Regions from separate parts of the Homo sapiens genome. Here regions 2, 3, 4, 5 and 6 are each linked to region 1. Evidence: fine-mapped expression QTL. A gene starts in region 1. Each other region holds a variant in brackets. All regions are shown on one strand. Distances are between the middles of the regions.

Region 1 (5,073 bases):
TACAGATGGGGCAGCCCAAGACCTTGGGGGTCCAACTCCCACCCTAGTATGCTTAGAAGGTGAGATATAGTCAAGAAAGGCTATTCTGAGGCTTTGGGATTTAATGTTATTTTTTCCCTGTTGGGTTTTGGACTTACTTGGGACCAGTTACCCCTTTATCTTACATATTTCTCCCTTTGGGAATGTGAATACCTATACTGTGCCTGTGCCACCATTGTATTTTGGAAGTAAATAATTTGTTTTAATTTCACAGGCTCATTGCTGGAGGAATTTGTCTTAGGATGAATTGTGCCTTGAATCTTGCTCATATCTGATTTAGATGAGACTCTGGACTTTCTAGTTGGTGCTAGAGTGAAGACCTTAGGGCTGCCAGGTGCAGTGGCTCATGACTGTAGTCCCACCACTCTCGAAGGCTGAGGCAGGTGGATTGCTTGAGCCCAGGAGTTTGAGACCAGCCTGGGCCACATGTCAAAACCTCATCTCTACAAAAAATACCAAAAAAATTAGCTGAGCATGATGGCATACACCTGTAGTCCCAGTTACTCAGGAGGCTGAGGTGGGAGAATCACCTGAGCCCAGGAGGTTGAGGCTGTAGTGAGCCATGATCACACCACTGCACTTCTGCCGGGGGGACAGAGTGAAACCCTGTCTCAAAATAAATAAATAAATAAATAAATATTAAAGCCTTTAGGGCTGTTGGGATGGAATAAATGTATTTTGTATGTGAGAAGGATATGAACTGGGGGTGGTGGGGGGCATAGAAGCAGAATGCTATGGTTTGAATGTGTGCTCCATAAAGCACGTGTTGAAAACTGAATCTCCAGTGCAACAGTGTTGGGAGGTGGGGCCCAAAGGGAGGTGTTTAGGTCATAAAGGCTCCACTCTTATAAATAAATTAATGCCAATTATAGAGGGTTTGAGGCTGCAAGTTCAATTTCACATACACCCTCTTGCCCTTCTGCCTTCCACCACAGGCTGATGCAGCAAGAAGGCCCTTGCAAGATGCCAGCACCTTGATATTAGACTTCCTAGCCTTCAGAACTATGAGAAATACATTTCTTTTCTTTATAAATTACTGAGTCTGTGGAATTGTGTTATAGCAACACAAAATGGACTAAGACATTAAGGAAAGGATGCTTAACAGGCAAAACATGGATGCTTCCTTCAACCAACCACTGTAGCCCCTTGCACATTGTTTAATCAAAACCCATCCAATTGAATTTTCAGGGCCAGCAACTGATTAGCTTTTTTATAAGGAATGTAAATTATGTATATAGATATATATAAAACTGCATCTTAAAATTTTCAACTTTTGTCATAAAGAATCTAACGAAAAGGACTAATTCATCTTCAATTAAAATATAGCTCATTCAGCCAGCTGCCTTAGCACCTAGACATATGGACCTGTTCCATAAAGTGTTTAAGAATCACTGAGTGAGTCGCTAATTAGTTGCTGATAAATGAGAGACTAATGGAGACCCTCCTTAGAGCCAAATGATATAGAAGTTACAGTCCACCAGTCTAAGAATGTAAACTATACTAAGAGAGCTAAAATGGGCAAGAAAGGGAATTTCCTGTACCTGTCCCCGATTATGGTTATTTAAGCTCACTAGAAGATCAAAGTGACACAACTTAAGTCTGCAAAACCAGGGCTGACATCTGATACAGCCTCAGCTTCTGAATGCTTTGGTCTGACCCTACAACAGTTTAACAGTTGCAGATAACAAAAATATCATTTTGGAATATAGTAGAACATTCCTCTAAAGGGGTCATGTATGGTCAGCTTCTAATTCAGCTAAGAGGTTTTAGCTGGTAAAGATACGTTTCCTGCAGTTAAGAAGCTCCATGCTCAGGTAGCAATAGGGTATCTTGATCACCTTTTTTAAGGTGACTCTTTGTTCTGGTTAAAATCAATTTCAGCTGTGAGCATTCCTTTAGGTGTTCATGTATTTACTTGTTTTTTTATTGTGATTTGAGAGAGGCGCAGAGGAAGGAGTTTCCTTTCCCAGACACCAGAGCTAGGAAGACATGAAGACATGATTCTAGGAAAACTGTTCTCAATCTTGGCCGTATACTGTATTAGGATTATCTGGGAAGCTCAAAACAAACAAAAAATATCAAGTTCACTTTGAACTCTGGAAGTGGGACCCTGGTTCCTAAATGCTCTAAAAGCTCCCCAAATAATTCTAATGGATGGCAGGTGCTGCCAGAGTTAAGAACCATTGCTTTAGAATTTTCTAGCATGGTTTCCCTGTAGGTCACTAGTTTTGTGGCATTCTCTCCGGGAGGTACGGCCTCATAGGGCTTCTCAAACATCAGTGCGCCTGAGCGTCATCTGAGGCGCTGTTTCAAATGCAGCTGCCCGGGCTATAAGATCACACCCGAAGGCGTCCGGGAATCTTCACTTTTTCCGTTGCTAGCAGTGGAAGGGTCACAGACCAAACACTAAGGCCTGAGCGGTGACAACCGAGGCGAGATGATGGTCAACAGGGAATGCCTCGTGGGAGAAAAAAGACAATTTTGTGAGTATAAGCCCCCTAAAAACCTGTTTTTCGTTCGCTTCCTTCTCTGGGCAGTTTTGACCCGACGACTTTTATAAAGAAGGTAACGTGAGTGTGGCGCTGGGTGCGGTTGGCTGTTCGGGAACATTCCCTCGGGGCGGAACGTGGGATGGGGGCTCCCCCCAGGTACCCTTTCCCCACAGCCGCTTCCCCGCTCCGCGTCGCTGCTCAGGCGCCAGCTCCCGCGTCGGAAGGGGCGATGGGGTGGCCCGGGGGAAGGGGCAACGCCCAGCGGCGAGAACTGGGCGCACGCTGGCGTTCCTGCTCCCGCCGAGGGGCGGCCACCGGCCGGGGCGCGCGCACCGTGGGGCCGGGAGTCCGCGCGGCCCCGGCAGCCCCTGCCTCGCTTCTCCGCGCTCGCGGCGCCGCCTCCTCCCTTCGCGCCGCCGGCGCTGCTCGGGGGCGGGGCCTTGCCGCTGCGGAGGCCGGAGACGCGGCGGCGCTGGACGCGGAGGCGCTGGGCGCACGGCGCGGAGCCGGCCGGAGCTCGAGGCCGGCGGCGGCGGGAGAGCGACCCGGGCGGCCTCGTAGCGGGGCCCCGGATCCCCGAGTGGCGGCCGGAGCCTCGAAAAGAGGTGAGTGGGCGGCGCGCGGCCCCAGGCTGCCCGAACCGCGGTCCATCGCTTCCTCCCTCCTTTGCCCAGGGCCCGTACCCCGCGCGCCGAGACCTCGCGTCGGTCCCCGGAGCCTCCCCGCGGCTTGCGCCGGGGCTGCAACCTTCGCTGGCTGCGCTCGGGGCTGGCTCCGCACCTTCCTGCACCGAGTAGCCCGCGGCTGCCTGGGCCCCTCGGCTCGCTCCCCAAGACCGGGCGCGCGGCCCCCTTGCCCTGCGATGAGGGGCCTCGCGAGGATTCCCTGCCCTGCAGTCTCAGGCGATGCGGGGCCTGTCTTTTTGTTCTGAGCTTTGTCACGCGCGTCGGCATCCAAAGTCAAAAGCGTGCACCCCCTAAGTCGCACTAGTTCCAGTTCTGCAGCGTGATTTGCACCAGGCGCGGGAGGCTGGCCGAGCCGCGAGTCTCTCGGCTCCCGCCGCCTCTTCCTCCCCTCCAGCCCCAGGCGCGCTCCGGCCGCCCTGGGGTCCACGTTGCCGCTGGGCCTCGTGGCTGGTGACCCCGGAGCTTGGGCTCCGGGTCCTCCCGCCGCGCGTCCAGAGCGCGGCTGCATCCCGTTCTCGTGGATGCTCGGGGTTTTCTCGCATACCTGTGTTTCCACCTTTGCCAACGTGGAGGATCCACACAACTTTGCCCTGCTGTAAAAATCATATCCCATTTAATATTTTTAATGATTTGCTTTTAAGAAACAAAATGTGAAGAATAACAATTTTGATGAAATTTTTTAGCAAAATTTAAGAATTATTATATTTGAAATACCATGATGATGCTGGACAATTTCAGATGTCCCATAGCCAGATTTGCAAAACTAAACTTGTGTGACTTTCACGATTTTGAGGTTTTCTTTGTCTGATTTGGGGTCCCTAGGCCCTACATTATGCACATTATTGAGGAACATTTCTAGGGCTGGATTAGTGAGATACACAATAACCTGATGAAGTATTTAGCAGCGCTTGAGTGGCTTTGTTTAGCTCATGGCCATCAGGTTGGCTCAAATCTCAGTTTTAGTATTTCTGAATTTTGGAGGGCATGGGACAATCTCTTGTCAGTTTTTGTGGGTCTCCAAAGGCATCCTAGCTTCTTCCAGTTGTGTTATAAAAGATGAAGCTAAGCTCATTACTTTCTTTCTTAATAGAAACTAGTAACTTGCTAAGACTTACTGTTTTTAGGCCAGACACTCAATTCTTAAGGTGTCAGTGAACAAAAATTGAATTGTTAGGATGGTTAAAGAAAAGAGGTTAGCTTTTAAGATACATTTTGTTCTCCTATGGAGAGGTTATCCAATTTTCACATTTTTTTTTAAAGTTGGTTTTACAGGAAAACGAAAGAAATGAGAGGAAAGTAGTGCTGAGGGTGGGGCCAGGAAATTGTGGTGACTTGGATATTAAGGGCCAGGGATACCATCTGCTTTCTAATGGCTGGTTTAGGTCCAGTTATTGATGGGAAATGAAAAGATTTTGCATTTACATTCCACCCGCTGTTGTTGTTGTTGTTGAGGGCTGGGCAGAAACAACAGTTAGGACAGCTGACCATAGCAGGCCCAGGGCTACCCGGGTTTATATATATATGGCCACCTTCCCCAGGAAGGAGGGAACTGCTACCCTTATCCTGTGAAAGTGCGAGCTGGCTTTCTGCATTGGAAGTACAGAGGGCAGAACCTGGGGAAAATGCGTCTGCGTGGATCAGTAGGAAGGGTGGAGCATCACTTTAGGCAGGTGTGCTGAGAAGAAGACAGGTGTCAGTTGATGGGCACTATTGGTGGGAGGGAGCTTGAAGGCAGCGTGGTCCCTGAGGTCCAGCCGCCTTTCTCAAAGGACCTGGGGTGGCCATTGGGGGCGGGGGAGCGGTGTTCTGTGCCTTTGGCTTAAATTCTGCAGCATTATTGTTATTACTTGTTTTTT
Region 2 (5,073 bases), 28 kb before region 1:
GGCACAATCTCAGCTCACTGCAACCTCCACCTCCCGGATTCAAGCAATTCCCTGCCTCAGCCTCCCAAGTAGCTGTGATTACAGGCATCTGCCACCACGCCTGGATAATTTTTGTATTTTTAGTAAAGATGGGGTTTCACCATCTTGGCCAGGCTGGTCTTGAACTCCTGACCTCATGATCCACCCGCCTCAGCCTCCCAAAGTGCTGGGATTACAGGTGTGAGCCACTGCACCCAGCTGACCTTGAACAAATTACTTCTCTGTGCCTTTATTGTAGAAAACAACTTCTAGAATTGTTGCTAGGATTCAATGAGTTAACACACACATAGAACAGCTCCTAGCACATAATAAGCAGCTAAATACTTATTAGCTACTACTATAATTGGTACCAGCCATGTGACCTGGAGAGTGGGCTTCATTTCCTCATACCTCCCGGGGTCTGCCAGGTCAGATGCAATAATGGGTGTAAAAGACATTTATGTACTGTTAAGGTACATCACAAAATGTATAGTATCATCACCACAGATTTAGTTACTTCTAATGTTGATTGTTTACTGTCCCTACAGGTAAGCTTACAATGTAGGAATCTTTTTGTCTTCTGTCACTGATGCATCCTGACCTCCAAAAACAGTGCCTGGTACATAAAGCACTCAATAGAGAGTTGTTGAATTTCTTGAATGGATCAATAAATTAATGAACAACTAAATAAGTGATCCTGGCTGTCTGAGTCAGTTCAAATGGCCATAACAAAATATCACAGATTAGGTGGCTTAAGAAACAGAAATTTATTTCTTACTCTCCTGGAGGCTGAAGTCCAAAATCAAGGCACTGGCCATTTTGGTCCCTGGTGAGGGCTCTCTTCCTGGCTTGCAGGTGGCTGCCTTCTTTGTGTGTCCTTACATGGCAGAAAGACAGACAGAAAGAGAGAGGGACAGGGAGAGATAGTGAGGGCTGGTGTCTCTTCTTACAGGGGCACAAATCTCATCACTAGGGCCCCACTCTTATAACCTCTTTAACCTTAATTACTTCCTCAGAGGCCCTACCTCAAAATACTGTCACTTTAGACGTTAGGGTTTCAACATATGCATTTTGGGAGGACACAATTCAGTCCATAACACGGCATGAGTGCACACATAAATTTCCATAAACATAGAAACAAAAATTCCGTAAATTCACTGTGGCTTGTCACCTCTTGACATGAACTTCTCTGAGCTCTGGCCATCTCAGGATACCTGCACCACCACCATTAGCACCGTGGCCTTTGTCTTCTTCGCAAGGTGAGTCTCTCCCAGGTTCCCCTGACTGCAGCTCTAACAAGCCAATTGTCCAGTGTGACCAAGGAAGAAGAGTCTTGCAGATTTTAACCAAGAAAGGGAAGGTCCAGTTGGTCTTGTCAAAAGACAAAATTCCAACAAATATAGTTATAGATCTAATTGGCTTTTATTTGCAATTCATGAATCAGGGCAGCTTCCATTCTACAAAACAGCATGAGGGTTCCTGCTGGACAGCAGCAGAACAGTGGGTTTTGTAAGGTGAGAACAAGGAAATAGGAAAAAAAAAATTTTAAAGTCGGATTGGCTAACATGAGGTTACTTTTTGTGTAAAAATTAAAGCAGAGAGGACTTCCTTATTGCACTGACACAGGTAGACTGGAATCTTCTGTTCTCAAGAAAAACTAGTCTATGTTGGATCTATCTGCTTCCTTAAAGCTTCTATTTGATGACGAGGCATTTAGCATGAATGACTCCATTTTGGTTTGGTCTCGTCTGTTGGGGCCTAGTACAGGAGTTCAGTCCAAAATAACGGGCTCCCATAATTTTGTTTAACAGCCTAAACTTAAGTTCTTCAGTGATCTGAATCCTCAGCTAGACCAAAATCTTCTGCTAAGTTGCTCTCCTTTTGACTGTCTGGCTGAGCTGTTGAAGGCCACAAAATATTTAGCAGGTAAAAGTACTGTTCAGGAACTATAATAATTTATTTTGTATTCATGGTGCTTTTCTGGCTTATAGAACATTGTTAATAAGTTGCTGTAATGTGCGCTTATATTTATGAATTTATAAACATTATGAATAATGTGATGATTATTGAGAGGCATATTGCCAAATATCCATAAACTGATCATTAGTCTATCTATGTATTTATCATTGTATATAAATATGTCAGTTTTGTTTTCAGGGAAAAAACTGTTTGCAATCTATAACTTCCAGGGCTCTTATCTCTGAATTGAACATGTGCCTAGGGGTATCAAACAGAACAAGACTCCAGATAGTAAGTAAATAGTCCTTTTTCTTATGACAGCTACTTAATCTGTAACAAAACAAGCAAACATAAAAGCTAAGTGATATCTAAAGCTTACCACCAAGAAAATAAGTTAGCAACTGAACAAAGCGCCTTCCTTCAGGCTAGATCTTACATACACACACAGTATCGACTTCAAGCCACTTCAGAAGAGACTCAGAAAGCTGCTGCGCCTGGCCTTGCCCTTAGGTTTGTTAGCTTCAGGGTCACAGTCCCAGCGGGGAGCTGACCCATTAGTCACACCTGCTTCACAGCCCTGCCAGCACTCACGGGGCCCA[A/G]TGAGAAGCCACAGGCATGTTGGTAGCCAGGCCAGGAGACCCAAGGGCCACGCCCATAGTTCTACAGAGTCATGTTAACCGTGGTTGTTATGGAGACAGCCAGTGTTCTTCATGAATGTGTAGCTGTTTTGTCACTCTGCCTGGGTCCGGGGACAGGCTGGCTCGTTACAAAGGCACCCACTACTGAAGACAGGCTCAGAGGCAGGAGTGGCCCAGCCCTGCCTTGTAGATGCTGATTGAGCTCTGCTACAGAAAATGCTTGATACAAGACTGTGCACCCCACCCCCATCCCAAACATGACTTGACTCTTAAAACAGCCCTGTATAACCACAATTGGCTTGTTGCCCTTTTGTTGGCTGCACACACTGATTTTTCCACAACCTTCAAAACCCTTCCTGAAGGGTGTTGTGGAGCAAATCCCAGAAGATAAACACCGTGTGAATGAACCCAAACACAGAGGGCTGTGATTACAGACCCTAGAGCAGCCTTCGAAGTATGCAGTGTTCTTCCCTAAGGCACCACCTTCTCACTAACCAAAATGGGACTGACTGGTGCTGAGTCCCTCTCGCTTATTCTGCTGGGATGAAGCCTGCTGGATGCGAACTTTGTGCTGTGCTTTTTGTATTTGCTATTTGCAGAGCAGAACATTATTTTTTGGTGGAAGATAGAGATGTGGATATGTGAGTCCCTGCCCTCAATTAACTCATAATCTCTTGGACTCACATATTAACAATAAGAGGGTGGAATAGAAAAGCGGCTCCTAACTGATACAGGGTTAAGCCTGCGTAATGACAAATTTCAGAGCTGAACAAGCAGAGGACAAATCACTTAAATGCATGGCTTTAGAGCACTGAGGTCAGAACTACACAGCCACCAAAAAGAATGAGGCAAAGCCTGTGTGCTGATATGGAATAAGCCTAAAACACACCAGAGACTGACAAAGTAAGGAGCAGTACAGCCTGTGTGATGTGTTCCCTTTTGTGGAGAGGAGAGGGGGAGGAGGGGAGAGGCAGGGTGGGAAAATGCAGAGAATAAGCCCAGAGCATTCCTAGGAAACTGGCAACAGATTGTTTGTTTGTTTGTTTGTTTTGTTTTGAGACTGAATCTCACTCTGTTGCCCAGGCTGGAGTGCAGTGGTGCGATCTCGGCTCACTGCAATCTCCGCCTCCCAAGTTCAACCAATTCTCCTGTCTCAGCCTCCCGAGTAGCTGGGACTATAGGCGCATGCCACTATGTTCAGCTAATTTTTGTAGTTTTAGTAGTGACAGGGTTTCACCATATTGGTCAGGCTGGTCTCGAACTCCTGACCTCAGGTGATCCACCCGCCCCCGCCTCCCAGAGTGCTGGGATTACAGGCCTGAGCCACCGCACCCGACCCCCCCACCGCCTTTTTTTTAAAAAAAGCAACTTTGTTGGGGGTGTAACTGACAGACAATAAGCTGCACATATTTAAAGTATATAGTTTGATAGATGTATACACCAGCAAAACTATCATCTCAAAAAGTACACATCTTCATCCCCCTCAAAGTTTTCTTGGACCCCTTGGCAATGCCTCCCTCTTGATCTTCCCCACCCATTCCTCATTCCCTAGCCAACGCTCCAACACTGATATGCTTTCTTTCAATACAGATTAGTTGGTGTTTTCTAGAATTTTTTTTTTTTTTGAGATGGAGTCTCACTTTGTCACCCAGGCAGGAGTTCAGTAGTGCGATCTCAGCTCACTGCAACCTCTGCCTCCTGGGTTCGAGCGATTCTCCTGCCTCAGCCTCCTGAGTAGCTGGGATTACAAGCACGTGGCACCATGCCCGGATAATTTTTGTGTTTTTAGTAGAGACGGGGTTTCACTAATGTTGGCCAGGCTGGTCTCAAACTCCCGACCTTAGGTGATCCACCAGCTTATGCCCCGAAAAGTACTGGGATTACAGGCATGAGCCACCATGCCCAGCCTAGAATTTATATAAATGGAATTATACGATATTTGCTCTTTTTTGTCTGGCTTATCACACAATAATTATTTTGAGATTCATCCATGTTGTGTGTATCAATAGTTCCTTTCTTTTTAATGTTGAGTAATATTTTATTATACGGATATATCACAGTTTTGTAATATACATTTGCCCATTGATGAGCATTTGGGTGGTTTTCTGTTTTGGGCTATTACAAATAAAGCTGCTATAAACATCTGTATACATATTTTTGTATGGATTTATTTTTTCTTTTCTTTTGGTTAAATATCTAGGCTTGGCATGGCTAGGAATTCCTGTAGGTACATGTTTAACTGTTTAAGAAAATGCCAAATTCCTAGTTCTAGTAATTCCTTTGCAGAGGCAATCAGGTTTTCTGATGCAATTTCTAATGGAAAATCCAATCCAATTTTCCGATAGAAGGATCTGACAAATGCTCATGTGTGTAAAGAAAGATTGCTTTACTTGTTCTTTTCCAGTCTAGATGTCTTTTATTTATTTTTCTTGCCTGATTGCCCTGGAAAGAAGCTCTC
Region 3 (5,073 bases), 35 kb after region 1:
TTGGGAGGCTAAGGCAGGAGAATGACTTGAACCTGGGAGGCAGAGGTTGCAGTGAGCTGAGACCATGCCAAGCACTCTAGCCTGGGTGACAGCGAGACTCCATCTAAATAATAATAATAATAGTAATAATAATAATTTGGGTCTGAAGACTTCCAAAGATCCTGGGTCCCCTCTTGGCTAACTGCTGTTCAGTGGCCAGTAGTGGCCACAAAGGCTTGGGGGTGGCATCACCTGCCCTCTGAAATGCTTGGGGAAGAGTCTGGGAGACCCTGAATTACTTACTAGCACTTCGTGAAGGGAAAGGCACATCTTCCTGCTATTGTGTTCATTTTTGCTTGCCAAAAGTTCAGTCACAAATAGCTTCATTTTCAGCATTTGCACTTGTAACATTCTCGCTCGGCTGGTTTCTCGCAGCTGCACATCCACTTTGACATTTATACTTTTTACTTATTTGTTAAAATATGTGCATTAATATTGCAGAGGTGCAAAGGTAATGTTTTAGCAACAGTTCCTTTGTCATGAAAATAGAGTTCTTGTATCTTTCCTGAAGGGGAGCAACTGAGTTAAAACAAAAAGATTGCTGAGTGGAAGAACAGAGGTGTTGGTGACTTGCTTATCGTTTTGTGTCCAGAAGAAGAAAAGCTTAAAGAGGCAGTGGGAAAGTGCAGGGGGCGCTCAGCCTCACTGTTGTCATGCTTGCCTGTGTGACCTGTACCCATGTCCAGGTGGTTTCAGGGAGCTGCCCGGTTTCTCCTCTTGCACAGTAACTTGGGGTACGAGGAGGCTCTGAGGTGTTTACAGTGCTTTTCTCTTGTAAAGAGCTGGTTCATGGAGTGCGTTCTTGAGTGTCTTCTGAGCCTGGGATGGGGTCACTTCCCTCAAATACAACAGCATTTGTTTATGAGTGACTTTTGCTGAAAGATTTTGCCTCTTCAAAATAAAATAATTAACAAGTCTGGTCATTGGTCCTACTTGAGAGTTTCAGAGTGCTTTTGTAACATGAACATATTTATTTATTTTCTGGAGACAGAGTCTCACTGTGTCACCCAGGCTGGAGTACAGTGGCGTAATCTTGGCTCACTGCAACCTCCGCCTCCCGGGTTCATATGATTCTCCTGCCTCAGCCTCCCGAGTAGCTGGGATTACAGGCAGGTGCCACCACGCCTGGCTTATTTTTGTATTTTTAGTAGAGATGGGGTTTCACCATGTTGGCCAGGCTGGTCTTGAACTTCTGACCTCGTGATCTACCCTCCTCAGCCTCCCAAAGTGCTGGGGTTACAGGTGTGTGCCACCGCACCCAGCCCGACATGAACATATTTAATTTCTAACTTCATTTCTTTAGGAGACAGTCATTCTTGTCGCTTGAGACAGAGGGGAAGAGAGTGAGAGCCAGAGAGGTCATGGAAGGCTCCCGGCACCTGAGAGTGGCCGGCGTGGGGCTGCCGGGGGCTGCCAGGTCTGCTCGTCACACTGGCCCCACCAGACTGCATTCTCCTGTGGCCAGATGCAATTCTCAGAGGGTTCTGGTGTCTTCTCTCTGGGCCAGCTTTGCTTGTGCACCTGCGAATGTAATGATTGTCTTCTGGGGGAACCAAAGCGATCTTGTGCAGATAAAAGTGGTGTCTTTGATTTTTATCACCTTTAATCGCTGTGATTGATGAATCCAGAGTTCTAGAGCAGCTTTTCTGTTTTTATTCTCACCGATTTTCCGGGTCCAGTTCTGTCAGTCCGTTCAGTATTTGTTCTGTTCTGCCCTGGCCTGTGCCCAGTGGTGGGGAGGCTGTGTTCATTGCACATTTACCATTGAGTGCTGGACAAAGATGAGGAAGTGAGTGTAGTGGGGTCAGTGTAGACAGAGAAACCACCCAGATATTTTAAGCAGGAAGGATTTGATACAGGGAAATAGATACTGTAAGCTGTGGGAAGGGCCTGCATTGAGGTGGGGTGGCTCTCAGGCACTATCTCAGGACCTGCCCCTGTGCCCAGCGTAGAGCGTGAGACCAGCGGGGTTCTGCTGCAGTG[C/T]AGGCCCAGAGTCAGGGGCACCCCACTTTCTCTGTTCTGCACCTCCCACACCCTCACTCTGTTCCACATTCTAGCCTCCAGTAAGTGCATCTGATTGGAGGCAGAATCCCACTGGAAATGATTCTGGAAGGTGCATTTTAGCTTCCGAGCCTTTGTGGTTCAGGAAAGCACAGCAAAAGGCGTGTGGAACCGACGTGGAGGAGCCGATCTGCTGCATCCCCCACCAGGCAGGCGGCTCAAGGGCCATGGGAGTCAGCAGCGCTGTCCCCCACAGTGTCTAACCTGGAAGGGTGCCTAGGGAACTGCGAGTGGCTGGGCCCGAGCAGAGTGTGATGTTGGGGTGCAGGAGTTTGGACTTGAGTTTGAAGGAGTTTGGACTTGAGTTCAAGACCGGGGAAGCCGTCATAGGGTTTAAGCTGTGATGGAGCAGTGTGGTCAGATGTGGGATTTAAAAGGCAGGCCCTGGCCATGTGGGGAGAGGGCTGGGTGGGGAGCAGGGCAGAGAGGAGGCAGCACAGTGAGGCAGCTCTTGAAATACTTGGAGTAAAAAGTGATGTTGCACTGAATTTGGGCAGGAGTAGGATGAGCTCTGCAAAGTGAGCAGATTTGGGAGGCAGCCAAGAGGAGGGATCAACAGGCCCCGTGACAGATGGGATAGGTGCGGGAAAGTGTGAATTGAGCAGAATGGAAGCAGGTCAGTAAAATCCATTGAAAATTTGCTGCCCTGAAAATAAAAGTGTTTGTCTCAGAAGACTTCTAGTCTTTTTAGATTGGAAATTCTCCAGTTTGTCAATTGGATTCAACCTTCAAATACAGGTTTATAATTAAACTCAAGTAATTTGCTTCCCACACTTAAAAATACATTTGTAGGAGAAGCAGCAAACATGCCATTCAGGTAGATGTCCTTCACTGCAGACTGTGCCTCAGTGGGTGTCCTAGTGCTGGGTCCTCACCTCCCACCTCCAGGGAGGGGCCTGAGCCTGTCATGGGATGTCCTGGACCTCAGGAGAAGACTCAGATGCCTATTTGATTCAGGACGTGGTTTGATTTTTAAACATGCCATGGACAAGTTCCACATGGAAAGCATTGTCGTGCAATGTGAGGTTGCCCACGATGGTTAGCGGCTGACCAGACGAGGCATGGATTTCATGTGCATTGATCTCTGTTCCTAATGGGACAGAACCAAATCCTGCAGGTGTCCTCGCTCTTGGCCTTGGCTTCATACGCACTAGAAAGAGCGTTGGCGTGTTTGATTGCCATAGAAGGCGTAACGGAGGCTTTGGGTTTTGCTGTTGTGGTTGGCTTTTGTCTTGTTCTCTCTTCACACAGAAAATTGCTTGAGTGACTTGGAATTGACTCCGTTTACCTTCTGTAATTCTTAACCCAACCCAAGACAGGCGTTTGATGGGAAATACGTAAAGAAAATAGGAGGTAGCTGTTTTTTCACTTACCGTCTCTGGCAGGGATCTGCAGTCATTCATGTTTAAGAACAAACAGTAAGTAGGGTCTGTTAGGTGCCTTGACTGTGACGCTGTAACCTGTACACTTGGTTCAGTTTTAGTTTCTCTTTCATCCCCAAAGGTCTGTGTACGCCTTTTTACCTGTCTGCAGAAAGTCAGAATGTACAAAAGTGTCTCCTCTTCCGCAGGTGGGAGCAGGGAAGCTGCTAGGATTCCCGTTTGAAAATGGAAACCCCCAGTGCCCTCAGGTGGCTCAGCCCTGGGGTGCCCATTGAGATTGGGAGTCTGCAGCCCCAGGCCTCCAGCCCTTGCACAGGGCATTTCCTGGCTGGTTAAAGAACAGCCAGGGAACGAATATCCAGATTGCTGGTGCTGTGTTGTAATCCGGCATTCTTCTTCCTCTAAAAACGGAGCTGGAGCTTTTCAAGCCCCCGCTCCTGGGTCAAGCCCTGTTGGCAGTGTGTGGGGTGCTCCTCTGGTTCGGCAGCTCCTCCCCTGCCATCTCCTTAAGTGTTCAGGAGTGAGAGCAGCGGGAAGAGCTGAGGGGCAGCTTGGGTGGTGCTGCAGAGGGGACAGACCAGTGTGAGCTGCTTCAGGGGCAGCCAGGTTCCCTGGCAGCTGGGTGATGAGGAGACCTTCAGAAAGATCCAGGGTCAGGGACTAAGAAGACAGGCGCTCGTCCACTGCTAGAGAAGCCTCAAAGTGCATTCTGGGGTTCCCACTGTCCTTCAGGTTTGGATCCTCCTGGAAGTTTTATTTGACCCAAGTCACGTGTAGGTTAGAGGCACAGGGGCAGGCTGCTACCAAAGGAGACAGTGTAGCAGGTTCTCAGAGGCAAGGGCAGCCCCCCCCGTTTGCTTCTCCTCCTTTTTCCTTCCTCCTGCCTCCCCTCCCTCCATCCTTCCTCTTCCTTTCTGTCCCTCCACCCCTCTCCCTTCCTTTGTCCTTTTCCTCCCTCCATCCTCCTCTTGCCCTCCTCCCCTCCAGACCCTGTCTCTCTCCTCTTCCTTCCATCCCTTTCCTCCATCCTACTCTGTCCTCTTTTCTTCCCTCCTCCTCTCCCTCCATTCTCCCTCCTCCTCTTCCTCCCTCCTCCCCCGTCCTCCCTTCCCTCTGTCCTCCTTTCTCTCCCTCTCCTCACCATCCTTTGCTCTCTCCTTCCTCCCCTTCCCCTCCTCCCCATCCTCTCTCCTCCCTCCCCAAAGCACCTGCAGTGTGCCCTGTGCAGGAGATGCTGGGGGAGGGTGTGAGCCAGTCTTGGGTTCAGGCCCCCTCGCCATCAACCCTGTGCTTATGTCTGTGATGGCCACCACACCTCATGGACCTTGTTCTGCCAAGCTGGGCACCCGGGTGACCCCAGGGCGGGTCCTGGGAGCATCCTGCACTCTCCCAGCGAGGTGCTTTCCCACACCCGCCAAGCTGCAAGGTGGATGGGGTGGGAGGATGTTACCTTCCCTGTGACAACACAGGGATGTGTTGGCAGGAGCTATTCTGGGCGTGTAGCAACTGTGTCTGTGTGTCCTACGTGTTTTCCTGGATAGATGGTGTTTTCTGAAGCTTTGTAGAAAGTTACACTTAATCTCCCGACGCC
Region 4 (5,073 bases), 22 kb after region 1:
GCTCTCGTTTGGCATGGAGTGAATGCCTTGTTTCCACCTCAAATCCTAAGATGGAACACATTTTTCCTGGTGACTTCAGGCAGATGGCACACCTCCCACTTCCGTTGTGTGTCATGAAGGAGGAGACACTTCTATAGCCAGGGCTGTGCCTGAATAATGATGTACATGGGGGGGAGTTCACATTCACCTCCAGAATGGGTTTCCTGCTTTGCTTGAGAAATGCTTTAATTGGGTGTCATTAGTAATCCTGTCAAGGGTAAAAAAAACCTCCCTTGTTAGGAATCAAAGCAAAAAGCTCTCTCTGAGGAGTAATGAGGAATATACTCTTTCTAATATGATGCGGAAGCACTTAATATTTGTTATTGGTGTTTACAGAAATGATTACTTCTCAAACATTGCTGCTTACAGAAATGATTAATTCTCAAACTATGCCGGGAAGGTGAGTATGGTAATGATTTTACAAGGGAGGAATCTGAAGTGTAAGAGGAATCATGTCTTGCCCCAGGTCTCGAGCTAATCTGTGGCAGGTTTCGGGGCGGTGCCTGCTCCTCCGAGCCTGTCCTGGGAACTGGCCACACTGCCCTGGGTTCACAGCACCATGGGCTCTGTGCGTGCCGTTCACATACTCTTCTCCCTTGACAGCTTTGCACGTCAAGGAGAAGCTACCAGCCCACGCTTCTTGGCAAGACTCCTTTCCTCTTGGTTGTAAGGATGATACGGTCTGCTTCGGAGATGATAAAACTAGTATTGATGTTTATTTATTTGCTTTTACTTGGCAGATTCTCAGCGCTGATTTTGAGATGATGGGCTTGGGAAACGGGCGTCGCAGCATGAAGTCGCCGCCCCTCGTGCTGGCCGCCCTGGTGGCCTGCATCATCGTCTTGGGCTTCAACTACTGGATTGCGAGCTCCCGGAGCGTGGACCTCCAGGTGTTTTGTTTTCTTTATTGTTATGTTTATTTTATGTTTATGTTTTGTTTATTTTGTTATGATGGGGTCCCAGGGGTTTGTTGTTTATTGCCAGCCAGGGCGTTTTGTGCAGGGCACACGCTTGTAAGGTGAGTTTAGGGCTCTGCACACCCCCACAGCCCTGGGCCAGACCCCAAGCAGCTTTGGGTGGGAGAGGTCCCCTCTGTGGTTGTGTAGGATTGCGGTTGTGGTATCCCTCCCTGCCTTTCCTGTGAGTTAACAGCATTCATTTGAGCTACTGGGGTGGTTCTGGGAAGACAGCTTGCTTACATACACTGGCCATAGTCCGTTGTTTGCGGTCCTCCGGCGCCCAAGATATCGAAGAGTAGTATTGGAAGTGTGCTTGGATGATGGGTGTAAGAAATATGTTTTTAAAGGTACCAATCTTTATCTTCATTACTTAATGATAATAATAATTTTAACTTCCTCATTTACCGGTGCAGTCATGGGTCAGGTGCAGTGCTGAGCAGTGACAAAGATGCTCCTCTTGATTGAACTTGAGTCGGGCCCTTCTGAGCCGTCTTCTTGACTAGGCCTTGATCTTGGCACCTCCCAACTCTCACTGCCTGTCTTTGGCCTGCCCAGCCCAGTCCTAGCAAAGGATCCCGCTAAGCCATCCTTCTACCCCTGATCCTTGACCAAGTTCCTCATCCCTACCCTTGCTGTCTAAGTCCTTGGCCTGTGTTTAGCAAGAATCTTGTTAGGCCAGTTTAGCAAGAATCCCCCTACTCTGGGGGCGATTTCCATCCACTGACTCCCCGCACTGTGCTCGTTGGCTATAAATCCCTAGCTGTCTTTGATGTGTTCGGCATTGAGCACAATTTCCCTCTCCTATTGCAATCGTTTTGAATAGTCTTTCTTACCATTTTAATGAATGTCAGAATAATTTCTCTTTCACAGTACTTTATACAAATTATCTCCTTTTGTGCACAAACCCTACAAGGCTGGGACTTGACTTTCCTCATTTCACAGGGGGTCAGACTGAGGCACCAAGAGGTTGAGGTGGAGCAGGGATTCCAACCTGCATGGGCTTAGCCGTGGCACCCCAGCACGTCTGTGCTCTGTCCTGTTCTCACACTTACCCTCCTGGGCTTGTACTCCCTGTGTCTCAGCTTCCACGGGAGTTCCTGTTCTCTGGGCAGATGAGGTCTGCTTGTCTGGAGTTGGAGAACTGAATCTGTTTTCAGAAATTGTATCTGCTAAAGAGTTGTTAAGTGCTTTGTTAGCAGCGAAGAAGAACTAAATATTTGAGCATCATCT[T/C]ATGCCAGGTAAAGCATGAGGCATTCTGTGCACTTAGCACATTTAAGCCTCACAAAAACCCAGTGGGAAGTGTGGTGTGAGTGCACAGAGCCTTCCTTCACTTACACTGACAGAGACCATTTTTTCCAGAAGAAACCGCTCCAGCTTCTGTCCAGTTGACTTAAAACACAGCCTTGGGCACTTGTGTGTATAAGACTGGTGCTGGCCCTGGGCCCCAAGGTGGTCTTTGTGGAGGGCGCTCAGGTGGTCCAGGCTCCTCAGGTAACTTGGCATCAGCCCTAATGCCACGGTCTCCTTGTAGACACGGATCATGGAGCTGGAAGGCAGGGTCCGCAGGGCGGCTGCAGAGAGAGGCGCCGTGGAGCTGAAGAAGAACGAGTTCCAGGGAGAGCTGGAGAAGCAGCGGGAGCAGCTTGACAAAATCCAGTCCAGCCACAACTTCCAGCTGGAGAGCGTCAACAAGCTGTACCAGGACGAAAAGGCAAGGCCTGCTTTGTTTCCTCTCAGTTCTTTTCTAAGGGATGGTGTCTACATTGTCTGTTTCTTCTTGGCGGGAGGATGAGCAAGCGGCTGGGTTTAGATTTATGTAATTATGTGGAAAGAGCCTATTGATCAAGCTTTGGGCATTCTCTCCCTTTCCCCTCCAAGTCCCTGGCTGGGCTTGCGGTGAAGCCTTTTGCAGTGGTAATAAACAGGAGAAATGCAGAAGAACAATTTCAGATTCATCCTCCTATTGGCTTTTTTTTTTCTCCTATTGGGTTTTTTCTTCCCACTTTCCACAAACATGTATTAAATACCTACTCTGTGCCAGGCCTATGCCAGGTGCTTATATCTCAGAGAAAAATAATATTTGTGCCCTCCAAGTATCTAATGGAGGAGAGGAGAGGCAGACTCTACTAAATACTAACAGAGAAAGTAGGGGACTGCACCCTTGCTTTTAAGCTAGGAAAAAAACCAACAAATCCTGCGTAGATTTAAAGGGGCCTTCCTGCTAATTAAAATATCTAAGCTTTATGTGTCTTTTTTTTTTTTTTTGAGATGGAGTTTGGCTCTGTCGCCCAGGCTGGAGTGCAATGGTGCAATCTTGGCTCACTCTGCCTCCCGGGTTCAAGCGATTCTCCTGCCTCAGCCTCCTGAGTAGCTGCGATTACAGGTGCCTGCCACCACGCCCAGCTAATTTTTATATTTTTAGTAGAGATGGGGTTTTCACCATTTTGGCCAGGATGGTTTCGATCTCTTGACCTCGTGATCCACCTGCCTCAGCCTCCCAGAGTGCTAGGATTACAGGCATGAGCCACCGTGCCCGGCCTGGTTTTCTTATGTAGGAATATATGACTATACTTTCTTTATTAAATTGTGTAACTGTGTGAGTTACTAATATCTCCTGTCCCAGAGTGCATCAAACTTTGGCCTCTATTATTAACTAGAAAAATTTGGCTTTTTTTTTTTTTTTTTTTTTTTTTTTTTTTTTGAGATGGGGTTTCCCTCTTGTTGTCCAGGCTGGAGTGCAATGGCGCCCTCTTGGCTCACTGCAACCTCTGCTTCCCGGGTTCAAGCAATTCTCCTGCCTCAGCCTCCCAAGTAGCTGGGACTACAGGCATGTGCCACCACGCCCAGCTAATTTTTTGTATTTTTTAGTAGTGATGGGATTTCGCCATGTTGGTCAGGTTGGTCTCGAACTCCTGACCTCAGGTGATGTACCCGTCTTGGCCTCCCAAAGTGCTGAGATTACAGGCATGAGCCACCGCACCTGGCCTGAAAAATTTGGCTTTTATAATGCGTGTACCTCTCTCTCTGGAGTGGCTAATTTATTGGAAGAATGTTGTAGCTCAACTTCCATTATCTTGAATTGTCTCAGAAAATGAATTATTTCCAGGAAGGGACTCAGACTTTTCTCGCATAACTGATTTAAAATTCAAGAAGTACTTTTTTTGTTGTTTAATTTGCAGAGTACTTTCCTATATTTGCAAGCTCATATTTCTTCTCTGGGAATTGTGCATAATGTTGTTGTAATAAAGTGCTTCTTTATGTTTCTTCCCTTTTCTTACTGGTGAGATATGCTTTTTGTGCTCCTGAAATCCCCTTTAACCTCATCTCTCAAAAAGAAAAAGAAAAAAAAGAGCATCAAGTAGTTATTTGAAAAGAGAATCTGTTTCCACAGTTTTTCTCTTTTAGAATATGCGATATAAATGTCTTTTCATTTTGGTGAGCAAGGGTGGGTTCTCACATCAAACCTTAGCTGCAGGAGGATTTTAGCTGTGGTTTGGTGGTAGGAGGCATGGAACTTGTGAGTCAGGCAGACCCGGGTTTAAAGTTCCCTCAGCTGTGTGATTTTAGGCAAGTCACTTAAATTCTCTGGATCTGTTTTCTCAACTGTCAAGTGGAAATGAGAAAGGAATCTCACAGGGTGCCTGTGAGGATTGAATGAGATAATATTTATAAAGCGTTTAACCCAGTGCTCAACCTAGAATGAAAGCTCAGCAGCTGGTGGTTGGTATTATTACACCTAATTGTACCAACGGCAGTCGAGGCCATGATCACAGCAGCAGTGGTGGGCGCAGTCGTAAGCCACCGCAGCAGCGGTGATAATGTTATCTCTTTCTGTATGGACTTTGTCTTAGTCTGTTTAAGGCTGCTATAACAAAATATCATAAACTGAGCAGCGTATAAACAACAAGTATTTATTCTCACAGGTCTGGAGGCTGGGAAGTCAGAGATCAAGACGGGGCAGATTCATCTGGTGAGGGCCCACTTCCAGGTTCATGGATGCCTTCTTCTTGCGGTGTCCTTGCCTGGTGGAAGGGGCAAGGCAGCTCTCTGGGGCCTCTTTTATGGCACTAATCCC
Region 5 (5,073 bases), 180 kb after region 1:
TGGTGGGAGGTGTCTGGGTCATGGAGGCAAGTCCCTCATGAAATGGCTTGGTGCCATCTTCATGGTAATGAGTGAGTTCGATCAATAGATAGATAGGTAGATAGATAGACAGACGGACAGACAGACAGATAGATGATAGATAGATAGATACAGAGAGATAGATGCTCTATCTATCTCTCTAGGCTGACACACATTCACTCAAACTGATGCTCCCTTCTCTTTCAAGTCACTAGATGGAAGAAACAATTTCCTATCCTGATCAGTGTGGATCGGGTGTGACTTGGTGTGTCACACAAAACAGCAAACATCACTTGACTTCTACCTTGATTTCTGAACAGCACACAAATGAAAAAGGAAGGAATGAAGTAGCTTAGGGCAGGAGAAGATGAGAAAGACATCACAGTTTTAAGGTGAACTCATACCTCTTACATTTTAGTAAAGAGGCATTACTTATTACTATGGCTTTTAGATTAAATAGTGAATATTTGTTTATAAATTAATTTTTCCATGGGTCTACTGGACTAGGAGCCATGAAAGCAGAGCTTTTCAAACCCAAGAGTGCATCAGAATCACCTGAATGGCTTGTTAATATGTCCTGCTCCTTCTTCCCCAGATCCTGATTCAGCAGGTCCAGGGTGAGGCCCATGACTTTACACTTCTAACAAGCTGCTAGGCAATGGCTTGCTTCAGACCACACCTCAGCCCTATGCTAGAAGGCAGAATCCACCTATACCTCAACGAGTCACACATTTAATCAGTACACAACATATTCAAGACCCTACATTAGCTACTTAGAAAAAAGGGACATAATTGGTTTTTAACAGGTTCATAGTCTTGTAGAAGCAAAAATGTAAAGAATTTCTGTCTTTTGTCAACTTTAAATTTATTAGAAAACTCAAATAGGATAAAGATGAGCTATAAAATCAATAGAATTTTGACACCAAGAAGACATTTACATCCAAACCCAAGACATTTTTAATAAATGTGCTCCCTTCTTACATCAGCAAGGGTCAGTTTCTGTCATTTATAACCAGGAACCACGGAGTCTCTTTCCTTATTTTGAGGTGTGACTGAAATGGAAAGAATTTCAGTTTCTTCCATTTAGGGAAAGGTAATAATATGGGGAAGATAATAATAGCACCCATTTTTTAGCATAATTGGAAAGATGAAATAAGATCATATATAGAAAGCTTGAAATATAAAGAATTTATTTTAACAATGTCTGGCACATAATAGATGCCTAAATCTTAGCACTTGGAGCTGATTGTATGGGAAAGGGGAAGCGAGAGATTATAGCTGCTGGTGGAATTTTAAAGAATCCCTTGGCCAGGCGCAGTGGCTCATGCCTGTAATCCTAGCACATTGGCAGGCCAGGGTGGGCGGATCACTTGAGGTCAGGAGTTCGAGACCAGCCTGGCTAACATGGCAAAACCCTGTCTCTACTAAAAATACAAAAATTAGCCAGGCATAGTGGCAGGTGCCTGTAATCCCAGTTACTTGTGAGGCTGAGCCATGAGAATCGCTTGAACCTGGGAAGTGGAGGTTGCAGTGAGCTGAGATTGTGCCACTACACTCCAGCCTGGGCAACAGAGCAAGACCCTGTCTCAAAAAACAATAATAATAATATAAATAAATAAATAGTCACCTACCTGAGGCTGTGGGTGCACTCACTGATGTCCACAACAGCAAGTGGATAAGGGGACAAAATGTACTGTGTCAGACAGAGGTATAAAGAGTTCCCCCAAAGAAAGAGGTGGAAAGCACAACTCGAAAATTCAGCCACAAAACTTAGCAGACAAAAGAAAACAGAAAAACACAAAAAGAAAGTAAAATATGTATTCTGGACAACTCCTGGAAACACTGCTAACTGCAGCCTATTCCTGAGCACCAAATGCAAATTGGAATGGCACTGGGTTGCCTGCTTTTAAAAGCCATGCACAAGATCAGGCAAAGTGGCTCACACCTATAATCTCAGCACTTTGGGAGGTCGAGGCAAGCAGATTGCTTGAGCACAGGAGTTCGAGACCAGTCTGGGCAACATGGCAAAACCCTGTCTCTACAAAAAATACAAAAATTATTTGGGGCATGGTGGCACAAATATGTAGTCCCGACTACTTGTGAAACTGAGATGGGAGCATCGCTTGAGCCCAGGAGGTTGAGGCTGCAGTGAGCCGTGATCGCACCCTGAAACTCCAGCCTGGGTGACAGAGTAAGACTTGATATCGTTAAAAAAAAAAAAA[G/AG]AGGCATACACCACATGAACTGAATAGATCCATAATCAAGAGGCGAAACTGGCAGAAATTATGTTTTGTGTGTGTGTGCGTGTGTGTGTTTTTTGGTTTTTTTTTGAGACGGAGTCTCGCTCTGTCACCCAGGCTGAAGTGCAGTGGTGCGATCTCGGCTCACTGCAACCTCCACCTCCTGGGTTCAAGTGATTCTCCTGCCTCAGCCTCCTGAGTACCTGGGACTACAGGCACGTGCCACCACACCCGGCTAATTTTTTATATTTTTAGTAGAGCAAGGTTTCACCGTGTTAGCCAGGATGGTCTTGATCTCCTGACCTTGTGATCCACCTGCTTCGGCCTCCCAAAGTGCTGGGATTATAGGCGTGAGCCACCGCGCCCGGCCTGGAAATTACGTTTAATCACCCAATGTAATTGTTTCTGCTTTCAAAGCCTTTGTTTCTACATAAGCAGTGGTTCTCAACCTTGACTGTAGATTAGAATCACCTAGAGAGCCCACCTCCAGAGACTCTGATTTAACTGCTCAGGATGCAGGCAAGGCATAGGCTTCTCCAGTGATTCTCATATCCAGCCAAAGTTGAGAACCAACTGTCAAAGTCTTTATAAATATCCCATGCTCAGTTTCTATGAAGAAAAAACAAAGATTTTATTTCAAAGAATTCATTATTCCACTATTCAAAAATTTCTAAGTAGGTGTTCAAAATCACCCTCATATTGAGGCTATAAAAGAGTCAAAAGAGAATTTGTTAGGAAGGTTTCTTTGGAAACAGTTGTTCTTTGACTCTCATTCCTAGAATGGAGAGAGAGAGAATATCTGCCCCTTCACCTTAGTTAAGAGAGAGAGGCTTCAGCAGTACTACTTAGAGAGTTTTATATTCATTCTACTAGCCAGGGAGACACAGTGGACTGGTATCTGACCACTGGAAAATTGTGAAGGCAGAGGTAGACTCACTAACTACTCCAGTGCTGGAAAGCAAGAAGTTAGCTGCTTTGGGATGGGCCTGTACTTCCAGTTGGTCAGGGCAATGGATGCCTATGCCGACTGCTCAGGGCAGCCCTGGAGGCTGATTCCCTGTGTCCTTTCAGTAGCCTGGTAAAGAGCTGGCTCACCAGATCTGAGTTCACTCAATAGGAAAACAGGCTAAAACATGAAAACTGATCTCAGAAGTTGCTTCTTTCTAATAAAGCCTGTTTGCAATCAGAGGTTGTCCATCACTACAAAGGCACGTAGATGATCCTTGTCTCTATTTTCCTACGAATATGGAATGTAGGTGGAAGTAGAGCTCTTCATTATGGGACCATGGCCCCACTGAGTCCAGCCCACCCACAATCAGTCCAAGCATCATTCCTGGAGGACTCATGACAGTAGGAACTGTCAACTATGCACATTTCTGCTTATCCATTTCTCCCAATAAATGTTATTTTATATTTGTACCATGTGGCATTGATGGAGTGCATGTATTCATGCTACCTTTGCAAAATGACCACTAAGGAGAAAGAGCTAATCTGGTGCCTTTTAAGTCCCAAGAAGGGCTGCCTGGGGGAGCCACAGGATCTTAACAGAAAAAGTCTGTGAGTGCCTCCCGAGTAGAGTCAGTCAAAGGACTAGGGGCTAAGAGGGGAGCAGCAAGTCAGAGGAAACTCCAGTTCCCCTATCAGGAAAACACCATTGAGCATTCCCAACAGAATCCTCTGAATACTCCCACCCCAAACATTATCAGCTCTAAACACTTATTAGGTCCAGAGAACACCATCTTACAATACCAGTCATCATGTTCCTAACGCTTTTTACCTCCTCTGCCTCCCCATTCTTAGAGGAAATCATACTTAGCAACATAGATGGAGTGGAAGGTGAGCATAGAGAAAAGAAACATCACAGTCCCTCCCCTGGTTCCTGCCTGTAGAAGGTTCCATCAAGGGAAGGAGAAAGATTTTAACTTAATTTAAATGCAAAGATTTTATAATAACTTAACATAGTGTACTTTTAGTTACTGAAATAAGACTGTGTTTTTGTTCAATGTCACCAAGATATTTTTATTTCCTGAAAGTAAGAGAAATGTCATGGGAATGCGTACATTTTCAAGTTGGAACAGAAGGTACTTTCCCACTAAATAAATTTAAAGGGAGCAGAAGTCAAGAAAGAATTAGAGAAAGAAAGAGAAGGAAAGAAGGAAGAGAGAGAGAGGGGAGAGGGAGGAAGGAAGGAAGGAAGGAAGGAAAGAAAGAAAGAAAGAAAGAAAGAAAGAAAGAAAGAAAGAAAGAAAGAAAGAAAGACAGAAAGAAAGAAAGAAAGAAAGGTGTTTTCTGATTACATTCTTTGAATCAAGTTTTTCTAGTTTCCCTAAATATTTCACGAATATTTTGCATTATCTGATATTCTAAGTTTTACACCCATCAGATCAGAAAAACTTAGAATATCAGATAATGCTAAATATTGGTGCGAATGTAGGAAAATGGAACCCTCCTACTCTGCAGGGAGCGTCATACAGCCACACCCATTTTGGAGAGTAGCCTGAGAGTACTTATTTGTATATGTGTACTATGTCTACTACGACCAAACAATCCATATTGAGTACACCCAGAGGAACATGCACACGGGTCCCAAAGGGGATATGTACAAGGATGTTCATTGCAGCGTTGTTAGGGGTGACCAGCAATTGTTGGGAATGAATAAAAGACAGCCTCGCTTCCAGCTTCCATATGGAAAGCACTCAGGGAGTAGAGTGATCGAGCTGTTGAATCAGGCAATCTGCAGTATCCACACAACACGTAAGTCCAGTTTAAACTGCAATTTTTAAGATCACACAAGAATATCTAAAGAATCTTAGTGGAC
Region 6 (5,073 bases), 200 kb after region 1:
TTTGGTAGTTAATAGTTTCTCTTTTTAGCATGCATTGTAAATTTAGTATATATGACAAATTGAGCTGTCAAAAATATTCCCCTGGCCGGGCACGGTGGCTCATGCCTGTAATCCCAGCACTTTGGGAGGCTGAGGCGGGTGGATCACTTGAGGTCAGGAGTTCGAGACCAGCCTGGCCAACATGGTGAAACCACATCTCTACTAAAAATACAAAAATTAGCTGGGCAGTAGTGGCACGTGCCTGTAATCCCAGCTACTCGGGCAGCTGAGGCGGGAGAATCTCTTGAGCCTGGGAGGCGGAAGTTGCGGTGAACCGAGATAGCACCACTGCACTCCAGTTGGCGGTGACAGAGTGAGACCCTGTCTCCAAAAAAAAAAAAAAAAAATTCCTCTTTTTAAAAACACTTCAATCATTAAGGAATAAAGAAAAATATTATAGCTTATAGTACATAGCTAGCTCTTATACCTTCCTGATCAAAGGTAGAGGTAGCATAAGTTAATGAAAACAATATCCCATTCCTTAGTTTATTCATTAGTTCCAGCTTCTCTTCACTAAATCCATTATTGAACAGCCAATAAAATCATTCAGTTTATGTTTTACCATTTGTTAAAATTAGTCTAGGCTGATTTCCAACTGGAAAGGTACCTGGGTGTCTTTCCCATCTTGATTTTCTGCCTTAAACTTCCAGAAGAAAAGAAAAGTTTCTATACACATTGCATCCATGGAACAAAGGTTTCCCCACCTGCATCCCAGGCCTCTGTTTAGAATTCAAGAACTGTGTTACTACTGTGTTGGAGAAGATCATAGGACTGTATAGAGGTATGTTCCTAGGGGTAAAGCTACATGCCTTTGGGTGTATTCTTAGGTCGGCCAATTTATATCCTTGCCTTTAATCTTATCGCCCTTAGGGTTGACACTACCCTAAAAGTCAGGAAAGAAAACCTGGCTTAGAACTAGGAGTGCTATTCTACATTCAACATTCAAAAACTCTTCTGTTGGTCGTTGACTCACCAACATCCATTCATCCCCAGAAAACAGTCTAAATCAATTTTAGTAATCCTATTTCTCTCCCAAATTGGAATCATGAAAAATATTCCTGGGTTGCCAATGGCAGAATTGTGCTACTGAATCCACCAAGCCTGAAGCCTGCTCTGCCTCTTGGAGTTTGATTTATTGAAATAATGAACTTCTTTATTGTCTAAGCCAGTTTGAGTCAGTTTTTGTTACATACAGCAGAAAGTATCCTAACTCATGCAGCTCCACTAGGAAAGAAGTCCACTGTCATGATTCCAATTTACTAAGAAGGACATCAGAGTTCTGGTTCAGGGAGCATCTTTATCTAAATTATCTGAGACCAGTGCCCTCTGAGCCTCAGATGAACCAGTTTGTAACTTTTCGAGTACAGTCTACCTTGACTATGGCCCCTGGAGTTTCTAAAGGCTATTACCAGTTTTACTTATTCATGCTTTGGAACCCATTGAGTTTCTCCAGGGGTTCAAAGGTCCAGTGTGTTCCATTGTGGCATTTTCTTTAAAAATTCATGTCTAGGCCAGGCGCAGTGGCTCATGCCTATAATCCTAGCACTTTGGGAGGCCAAGGCGGGAGGATCACGAGGTCAGGAGTTTGAGACCAGCCTGGCCAACATAGTGAAACCCCGTCTCTACTAAAAATACAAAAATTAGCCAGGTGTGGTGGCACGTGCCTGTAGTCCCAGCTACTTTGGGAGGCTGAGGCAGGAGAATTGCTTGAACCTGGGAGGCAGAGGTTGTAGTGAGCCAAGACTGCGCCATTGCACTCCAGCCTGGGTGACAGAGCTAGAATCTGTCTTAAAAAAAAAAAAAAGTGATGTTTAGCAGCTTCAGTGCCCATAGATGCATGAGGCACTGGATTATCATACTTTTTCTAACCTAAGTCTGCAGACTTGTATATTATTTATAGTTGACTCTCTGTCCCCATAAACAAATGGAAATGAGATGTGCACTCCCTTCTGAGATCACATCTAGCTTGATAAGCAGACCTAAGGTATTTGAATTTATTTATTTATTTTTGAGATGGAGTCTCACTCTGTCGCCCAGGCTGGAGTGCAGTGGCACGATCTCGGCTCACTGCAACCTCCGCCTCCCAGGTTCAAACAATTTTCCTGCCTCAGCCTCCTGAGTAGCTGGGATTACAGGCACATGACACCACATCTGGCTAATTTTTAATATTTTTTTGTGGAGACAGGGTTTCACCATGTTGGCCAGGCTGGTCTCAAACTCCCGACCTCAGGTGATC[C/T]GCCCACCTTGGCCTCCCAAAGTGCTGGGATTACAGGCATGAGCCACTGTGCCCAGCCAGGTATTTGAATTTAAGCAAGGCATCTAACAAGGACTCTTATGCCAACTCAAGACGTCTCAAGGCCTTTCATGGACAAGTTGGAGAAATGTGAACTGGCTACACAGGCAAATTTATTAATGTTTAAAACTGCATACCTGCAGAATGTTGATTCATGGATCACGGTCAATTTAGAAAAAGTTCTCCAAAGCCTGCTCTGAAGCACAGTCATCAGATATGTTCTATTCAACGTTTTTATCAATGAATAAGATGAAAATATAGAAAGCATGCTTTTTGTATCATTTCCCTATGATACGAAATGGAAGAAAGTGACAATATGATGGCTTACTGAAGCAAAGTCTGAAAATAACTTAACAAGCTGGATCAATGAGCCAACTGTACAAGGAGCTGTTTTCATAAATGATATAAAAATATGGTGAAGATTATGTAAAAATTATTTTTTTAAACTAGGGATATATAAATAGAAAAATTGGTATCCATATTCCTATATCTGATGGACTGTCATATGAAATGAGAGAGAGATATTGTCTATGTCTCAATAAAGTAGGTCTAAGACAATTTTTTTGGCTCAATAATGAAGGGATTCTTTAACATTTGAAGACAAAGGAAAAGAAGAGAATTACCTGAAAAAAAAAGAAAAGAAAAGAATTACCTGAAGCCAGGTGCAGTGGCATATGCCTGTAGTCAACTTCTTGGGAGGCTGAGGTGAGAGGATTGATTGAGCCCAGGAATTTGAGTCTAGCCTGGGCAACATAGTGAGACCCTATCTAAACAAAATTTTCTGAATTAGGATCTGGTGATAAGTGAGATTGCTATGGTTTATAAATTCAAACCAAATCTGAGGGGCTATAGATATTTTGTTTTATAGATAACTTGGAGGAGATGAAATCTAAACTTTCTTTCCATGGGGTTTATTTTTTAAAACTAGCCTCTCATTCTTTGTGTTTTAATTGTAGCATTTAGTTGCTTTACATTTGCTATAACTATTGATATATTTGGTTTTAAATCTACCAAATTATTATGTGATGTACACTTGTTCTGCCTGTTCTATGCTCCTTTTTCTCTCCATTCTTGTCTCTTTTATATTGATCTTTTTTCTTTTCTTTCCTTTATTTTTTATTTTTTGGCAGAGTCTTGCTTTGCTGGCCAGGCTAGAGTGTGGTGGTGCGATCAAGTGATTCCTGCCTCAGCCTCCGAAGCAGCTGGGACTACAGGCACCTGCCATCATACCAGGCTAATTTTTGTATTTTTAGTAGAGACAGGATTTCACCATGTTGGCCAGGCTGGTCTCGAACTCCTGGCCTCAAGTGATCTGCCTGTCTCGGCCTCCCAAAGTGCTGGGATTACAGGTGTGAACCACTATGCCCAGCCGATAATTGATATTTTTAACAATTCTACTTTTAATCTCTATTTGCTAGGACATTATACAGCTTTTACTCTTCCTTTGGTCGTTGCCTTAGAGACTATAGCATGCAGATTTTTAGCAAGCGTTAGACTTGACAAAGTCTAATGTCAACTGGTATTTTTACCCTTTTCCAGTAGGAGGCTTTTAAGCCCTGTAACTCCATATACCTCCCTCCCAAATTATATACTGTTGTGGTCTTGTATCTATAAATATTTTAAACTGCACAATACATTATTTTTGTTTTATATAGTTAACTATTTATTTAGAGTTACTAGTTGCTATGCTCTAAGGTGTCCCTGATAATTTGTGTTGAAAACTCAAGTCTCAATTCAACAGTATTGGGAGGTGGGGCTTTTGGGGAAGAAGTAGGTGAATGGATTAATGGGTTTGTGGGAGTAGGTTCACTCTCTCTTGCCCTTCCGTCTTCTGCCATGTGAGGGCGCAGCAAGAAGCCTCTCAGCCCCTTGATCTTGAAATTCTCAGCCTCCACAAGCATGAGGAAATAAATTTCTGTTCTTTATAAATTACCCAGTCGGAAATATTCTGTTATACCAGCACAAATGAACGAAGACCCTAGCATAATTATTATTTTATTGCTTCGTCTTTCTTCCTCTATTTCTGACCTTCTGCGTGGGTTCATTTTCCTTTTAGCTGAACACCTTTTAATACTTGTAGTATGGGCTTGCTGGGGATGAATTCTCACTCTATTTTTTTCTTGAAATCCTTATTTCTACGTCATTTCTAAAGAGTATTTTCACTATTTATAGATGCTTGCTAAGTCACTATGGCAGTTATTTTCCTTCAGGACATTGAAAATGCCATGTTATTGTCTTCTGGCTTCCATTGCTTCTACTGAGAAGTAAGCTATCATTTCAGTTGTTGTTCCTTTTAAGATGATCTGTCTTTTTTTCCTCTGGCTGACATTTTTGTTTTAGACTAATTAGAGATCTGAAGTGATTTTACCTTTATTTCCTTCAGTTTAAGCCAATTATGAAATTTCACAGTGATTTCTGATGTAGGGGCAGAAGGAAGGCCGTGTTAAGAATCATCGGGACGGCCGGGTGTGTTGGCTCACGCCTGTAATTCCAGCACTTTCGGAGGCTGAGGCGGGTGGATCATGAGGTCAGGAGTTCAAGACCAGCCTGGCCAAGATGGTGAAACCCCGTCTCTCCTAAAAATACAAAAAATTAGCTGGGCGTGGTGGCGTGGGCCTGTAGTCCCAGCTACTCAGGAGGCTGAGGCAGGAGAATCTCTTGAATCCGGGAGGCAGAGCTTGCAGTGAGCCGAGATTGCGCCACTGCACTCCAGCCCGAGCAACAGAGCGAGACTCCGTCTC

Evidence for each region.
Region 2: its variant is fine-mapped to the expression of GOLM1 in whole blood (TOPMed, PIP 0.91).
Region 3: its variant is fine-mapped to the expression of GOLM1 in whole blood (TOPMed, PIP above 0.99).
Region 4: its variant is fine-mapped to the expression of GOLM1 in whole blood (TOPMed, PIP above 0.99).
Region 5: its variant is fine-mapped to the expression of GOLM1 in whole blood (INTERVAL, PIP above 0.99).
Region 6: its variant is fine-mapped to the expression of GOLM1 in gastroesophageal junction (GTEx, PIP 0.98).

What each region holds. Positions count from the first base shown.
Region 1 is chr9:86,097,474-86,102,546 of GRCh38, reverse strand. It overlaps GOLM1 (golgi membrane protein 1), which reads left to right and starts at 2,989. Exons shown (of 10, transcript NM_016548.4): 1 at 2,989-3,136. RefSeq lists silencers at 2,778-3,097, 3,108-3,207, 3,368-3,417 and an enhancer at 3,048-3,548.
Region 2 is chr9:86,125,052-86,130,124 of GRCh38, reverse strand. It overlaps LOC101927623 (a long non-coding RNA gene), which reads right to left and starts at 2,585. Exons shown (of 5, transcript NR_110996.1): 1 at 1,044-2,585; 2 at 797-895. The variant A/G (reference allele first, on the strand shown) is at 2,577.
Region 3 is chr9:86,061,990-86,067,062 of GRCh38, reverse strand. The region is part of intron 3 of GOLM1 (golgi membrane protein 1); the gene reads left to right. Among named protein-coding and RNA genes, the nearest start is that of GOLM1, 35 kb to the left of the region's middle. RefSeq lists enhancers at 729-1,729, 1,730-2,230, 3,463-4,379. The variant C/T (reference allele first, on the strand shown) is at 2,023.
Region 4 is chr9:86,075,048-86,080,120 of GRCh38, reverse strand. It overlaps GOLM1 (golgi membrane protein 1), which reads left to right. Exons shown (of 10, transcript NM_016548.4): 2 at 780-929; 3 at 2,530-2,709. The coding sequence starts at 801. Among named protein-coding and RNA genes, the nearest start is that of GOLM1, 22 kb to the left of the region's middle. RefSeq lists an enhancer at 39-1,238. The variant T/C (reference allele first, on the strand shown) is at 2,229.
Region 5 is chr9:85,917,631-85,922,703 of GRCh38, reverse strand. No RefSeq gene overlaps it. Among named protein-coding and RNA genes, the nearest start is that of NAA35, 21 kb to the left of the region's middle. The variant G/AG (reference allele first, on the strand shown) is at 2,241.
Region 6 is chr9:85,899,801-85,904,873 of GRCh38, reverse strand. It overlaps the pseudogene PHB1P7. Among named protein-coding and RNA genes, the nearest start is that of NAA35, 39 kb to the left of the region's middle. The variant C/T (reference allele first, on the strand shown) is at 2,276.